2 separate regions of the Homo sapiens genome follow, and region 2 is linked to region 1. The links come from fine-mapping of genetic effects on gene expression. A gene starts in region 1. The other region holds a variant in brackets. All regions are shown on one strand. Distances are from middle to middle.

Region 1 (2,911 bases):
AGCATATATTTAGTTATTTATTAAGAAACTAAAGCCTATTCTATGTCAGAAATGAAAATAGGCAATGAGGACTCAATGGTGGGCAAAATGCAGACAGACTACTTTTTTCCCCTCATTCTAGCACAGTCATCACTTTCCTAGGTAAGACGTTCCTAAACTCCAGACTACACCAAATCCTCCTCCTGACCACACCCTTCCACCTTGATTTTCACCTTCTGACCTCTCTTGCGTAGAAATTCGAGCACCAGCCACTCTATAGCTTTAGCTTAATTTCTCCAGCCATGCACGGACGAATCTGTGTTAGTGATGCCACAGGCACGTTTCCCTCCCAGCAAGAATATAACTTGCTGGGCAGCATTTCTGTGGATACTTTGAGAGAAAAATGCCCTAGTTGAGCACCCCGCACCATGGCCATAAGCATCCACCGGGCTCGAAGTGCATGGCCCGCAGCTGACCACTAGGGGGCAGCCCTCCACGCAGAGGCTCGAGCGACGGAGGCGACGCGGCGGCTACCGGCTCTGCTGAGCCCACCCCAAGATCGGAGGGAAGGGAGCCTGATTCCACGCGGGGCCTCCCCCGTGGCATACGTTGTTGTTAGGGAACTATTCGCCCCAAATATGGTTTATTGGAGACTTAGGGTTTGCTTTTCTTATCAAGTGCGACAGCAAACTGGCTGGGTCCCCTCTCGCATCCAAGAACCCGCAGAGACCCTGAGGGAGCCGGTTTGGGGCCCCATGCAGGCCAAAGCATCCCTCCGGGAAGGCGGGGTCGCTCACCTGGTAGGCGCCCCGAGAGCCCGCAGCACGGCCCGAGGTGGGGTCCACCGATGGAACGGGAGACCACGGGCGTGGCTCAGGGAGCGGTAGCCGCGCCCCGGGCCCGCCTCAGGGTCGGCTCCGCCTCACCCCAGCCTGTGCCCCGCCTCCGGGACAGCCCAGTTTCCGAGACCTCCTAGCCTCCAAGACAGCCCCGCCGCCAGAACAGCCTCTCCTCCAGGACCGGCCAGCCTACGAGAGAGCCCCGCCTACGGTACAACCCGCCTCCGGGACCGCAGGACTCCACCTCCGAGACAGCTCAGTCCCCAGGACAGTCCCGCCTCCGAGACGGCCCCGCCTCCAGGACGGCCCCTACCTCCGAGACCGCCCCGCCTCCGGGACCGCCCCGCCCCGCCTCGCCTCCGACCCGTCCCCCGCGCGCCACTGCAGAGCCTGTCCGTCAGTCCCTAGGTATCCGCACTGCTCAGGGGTGAGTTTTCCAATCCCAGCGGGTCCTGGGGTGGGGGCGGTAGCTGAGCACCTAGGGCACTGGGGGTCGCCGCAAAGTGCTGGAGGCCCCAGACCATACCCGGCGTCAGGGGGTGTCCCTCCCTTCTTAGGTCTAGGTCTTTGGTTTCATTTCGTTTTGTTAGTCTGGTGCTATTTGCAGTTTGTCTCAAAACACGTTTCTCCCTCCTATTTGAACTTGTAAATTACGAATTTGACAAAGATGTGCATGGTGTGTGCGTGCACGAGGGCACATTTCGTTGCGGAATGCTGGGTCAGCTTTCCGGGACATATTACTCATCTGAGGTTTTTTGTCTGTTTTTGTTTATCCTGTCAAACTGGTACTGCCCCAGAAGTGAAAGACGTCGCTTGTCTTCTGGGAGGTAGCTAGCACGATCTTGAGCTCAGGCTTCCGGATCTCTCTCGGCTGCTTTTTTCCACTGGTAACTTCTGAGGCTGAGATCAGGTACCCGCATTCTCAATGCTCTGCCGAGTATTGGCTCTCTTTTGTGAATTTCTTTCCCGCGAGCAGTATTAAGAAAAAGGTGGCGGATAGGAAGGGAAGAGGGGAAGAGATGGAATTCTACAGGAAATGCAGGGCATGCTCAGAATGCCAACCTTTCCGAGCTTGGAGAGATTTAGTGGAAGAAAGTAGCAGGAAAAACGTCCAGTAATCACTGGCATGCCAGACCCTGGAGAAGCCAGGCTGAGGCGCTCTGCAAGTTTCACCTTAGAGAGAGTGGACGAAATGTAACGGTTCTTGTTAGAGTTCTTGTAGAGGACGATTGTGGATGAGAATACATCCTGGGGACTAAAACCATATTGGTTTAGTCTGGAATGATTGCCAACTAAAGGGACTGATGTTTGAGAGAGATGGTGAGAGATTAACCAAATGAGGTGGTTGACTGCATATAGAAGCAGGAGGGAGAGAGGAAGGAGGCACTTGTGGCTCAAGGGCTTGGTGTGTGTTTTAGTTTAGATTCTGCCCTAAAGCAAAGCCTTATGCAAGGGCTTACCTGCAGGTAATTTTTTGGGGGTAAGTGAGACCAAAAAGCCCAAATGAGGAAGTGGAGAGAATGAGACAAGGAAAAAAGGGAAAGCCAGGAGGAGCATGTGGCTGAGGGTCTTCCACATGGCGCTCCTTTCCTCCGGGTGCCTTCCGAGGACCTCTGATGGGCACCTCGGGAAAGCCACGGGGCACTCTTCTGTGAATCCCCGCTCTACTGGGCGAAGCTCACCCTAGTGTCAACTCACCGCTACTTCAGGGCTGCCTTGTGCACCTGCAGAGGTGAGAAGCCATCAGAGCACAGAGGAAAGTCCCTTACAGTGGGCTCGTCAGAGACGCGCAAAGGGAGGCGGCACAGGCAGCCAGGGGACTACTGCACTACTGCAATCTGCAACGCTGCCCTCGGCAACCCGGGAAACTTAAAAGGACAGCAAAGGGACAGACACTCTCGTTTATTCCGTGCTCACTGTATGTGTACCAACCCCAGACAAGGCATTTTTAGACATATTCTTTGCTTTATTTTATTTTACTTTACTTTATTTTATTTTATTTTATTTTATTTTATTTTTTGAGGCAGAGTCTTGTTCTCTCGCACAGGCTAGAGTCCACTGGTGCGATATCGGCTCACTGCAACCTCCGCCCC
Region 2 (2,911 bases), 110 kb after region 1:
CGTTAAATGTGGTCAAGGTTTCCAAAGAAGGAGAGCTACTTTTCAGTCAATGCTATCTCCTTATAGGCATGGCATGATTGCGTTTCTCAGGATATTATTTTCATGAACTTGTTCCTGCTGCAAGGTCTTTAGTACCATGCCTGGCTTCCATTTTGAAAAGCCTTCTTGTGCAAGATTGGTGCACTTCCCAGTTCTGGTAGGAGGACAGTTTGGTCCCGTACTCAGCTTGCAGAAGTTCCTACATTTTCTACACACAACTCTTTGTACTGATTCACTTTTCATTTGGGAAAGCCATGAGAAACTTTTTTCATAAAAAAATATAACCATCATCTCTATAAACTCTTCAAGATGATAAAGGGAGAGAGCATCATTTTGCAATGTTAAGCATAGGTTGGGAAAAATGGTGTTGAGAAAAAATTAAGATAGAAATTGTAAACTATCTCTCAAGCTGGAGATCTAGAGAACAAAGAAGTTGAGTAACAGATGGAGAGAAAAAGTCCTCACCCTGAGGAGTAACCAAGAGCTTACCTGAGGAACAGCTTCCCAGACACCACTTCAAATATCATATTACCTCATATCAAGAGGATAAACCCAAAGGCAGCCCAATGGAGCAGTTTGATAAGCCATTTCTGTTTTAAAATTCAATAAGAAAGATCCCTTTGTTTCTTTTTCCTAGGCTACCAACAAATTTATAAAATGTTCTTGAATGTATTGTCCTTTTCATCAAGAATAATCTGAAAAAAACCCAATCATCTTTATTGTGCAGTACAGATGGAAGGGGAGAATTAACAACAACAAAGCCACTGCTTTTTATTCCTAGGCCCTTAATAGCCCTAAAACAACTAACTGTCTGTATTAGTTCATTTTCACATTGCTATGAAGAAATACCCAAGACTGAGTAATTTATAAAGGAAAGACGTTTAGTTGGCTCACAATTTTGCAAGCCTGGGGCAGTCTCAGGAAACTTACAATCATCGCGAAAAGGAAAGCAAGCATGTCTTACATGGTGGCAGGTGAGTGATGAGAGAGCAAGAGAGAAACTACCAAACACTTAATAAAACATCGGATCTCTTCAGAACTCACTCACTATCACGAGAACAGCATGGGGGGGAACTGGCCCCCATGATCCAATCACCTCCAACCAGCTCTCTCCCTCAACACCTAGGTATTACAATTCAAGGTGATATTTGGGTGGGGACACAAAGCCTGGCCATATCACTCTCTGTTGCTAAAAAAGAAAAACTTAGGTGGAGATTTGGAAATTAAAGTCCAGTGTAATTGGCCCCACT[G/A]TGGAGAACCAAGCCATGCAAGGACACTCACAATGATGAAAAAAAAATTCTCAGCACTTAGGTAAGGCACTCAGTTGGAACAATGCTTTCCTGGGTCTGCAGACTGGAACCTAAGCAGCTGTGTGCTTCACTTAGATAAATACATATTCAATGCATGAGACTGATTCACCCTCACAAATGATACTTCTTTTAATAGGATCATGCAGTCTACTCCCAGCCACATAGTTTTTGTCTTAAATAACAAATCATTTGAACAGGTAGTTAAAATGAGGACCATTCAGGTTTGAATTAGTAAAGTTACATATGGGAAGATTCCGTGAATTATTGTAGCAGACGGGAGTTATAACAAAAAATATATTGTGCATTTATATAATTTCATAATCCCATTCAAGCAATGACCCTAAAAATCTATTTTCCAGACCACATTTACTCCCAAGGATATCAGTGTAAGTTAGGTGAATCATCAATAAACCGCTTCTTTTCAGAAACTGTTTTAAGTGCTTTTATATTTATTTATGCTCACAACATTCCTACAGAGTAAGTACAATTACACTCTTCATTTTGCTGAGAACTAGTAAGCTGTGAAGCCACATTTCCAACCCTAGAAGTTGGAGCCCACACTCTCAGCCAGCATACTGTCCTATGGAGTTACTGGATCTGCCATCGCCTGTAACTCTGCCTGCATTAGACTATGTGTCTGAATACTGAATCACAGAGCAAGCAGAGTCCAACTGCCAAAACCAATCAGGTTATTCCTAGTTACACAAAAAGCAGTTACTTTACAGTAAAGGTCATTCATCCAAGGAACACTTCGCTCAGGATATACAATTGATTTTTTTTCCAATACCAAGACCGTGTCCAACCTAGACTGGAGGGTTTTAAAGATTCTGCGATTCAAAATAAGAGCTTGATGGAGTCTTAGAGGAAGCAGGTCTTACACTCAAGGTTTTTATCCTTTTTAAGGATGCCCCAACTCCTCTCATTATGTCTAAAAGCATTGGATAAGGGACCACATACGTTCCCATAGGTTATTAGCTCCAATAGCTGTAAAATCTAAATTCCCAACAAACTGGAGACATTTCAAGAGGCAGAAATCACCCTAGAATACTTTAGGGAAATAATAATGGTCACTTTTAAGTTTTAAAGAAGTGGGTTTTTATTGTTGTTGTTGGTGGTGGTGGTTTTGTTTGTTTTTGAGATGGAGTCTCGCTCTGTTGCCCAGGCTGGAGTGCAGTCATGAAATCTCAACTCACTGCAATCTCTGCCTTCTGCATTCAAGTGATTCTCCTGCCTGAGCCTCCCAAATAGCTGGGTCAACAAGTGTTTGCCACCATGCCCAGCTAATTTTTGTATTTTTAGTAGATACAGGGTTTGGCCATGTTGGTCTCGAACTCCTGCCTCACATGATCCACCTAGCCTCGGCCTCCCAGAGTGCTGGGATTGCCGGCATGAGCAACAGCGACCAGCCTTAAAGATGACCCTACCTTTATTTAAAATGACCCTGCTTGTATTTCCTCCCCTGAATGCCTTAAAGTCCCTGACTTATTTGAAAACTTAGTATTTCGAAACAGTTTCAGAAAAAATTAAAGCCTTAGTGGTTGGTCACACTAAATGGGACCGTC

What was found.
Region 2: its variant is fine-mapped to the expression of TCAF2 in whole blood (TOPMed, PIP above 0.99).

What each region holds. Positions count from the first base shown.
Region 1 is chr7:143,619,776-143,622,686 of GRCh38, forward strand. TCAF2 (TRPM8 channel associated factor 2) reads left to right here and starts at 1,199. Exons shown (of 8, transcript NM_001363538.2): 1 at 1,199-1,245. It also overlaps a transcript of LOC101928466 not described here. RefSeq lists a silencer at 1,104-1,263.
Region 2 is chr7:143,734,170-143,737,080 of GRCh38, forward strand. No RefSeq gene overlaps it. Among named protein-coding and RNA genes, the nearest start is that of CTAGE6, 22 kb to the right of the region's middle. The variant G/A (reference allele first, on the strand shown) is at 1,290.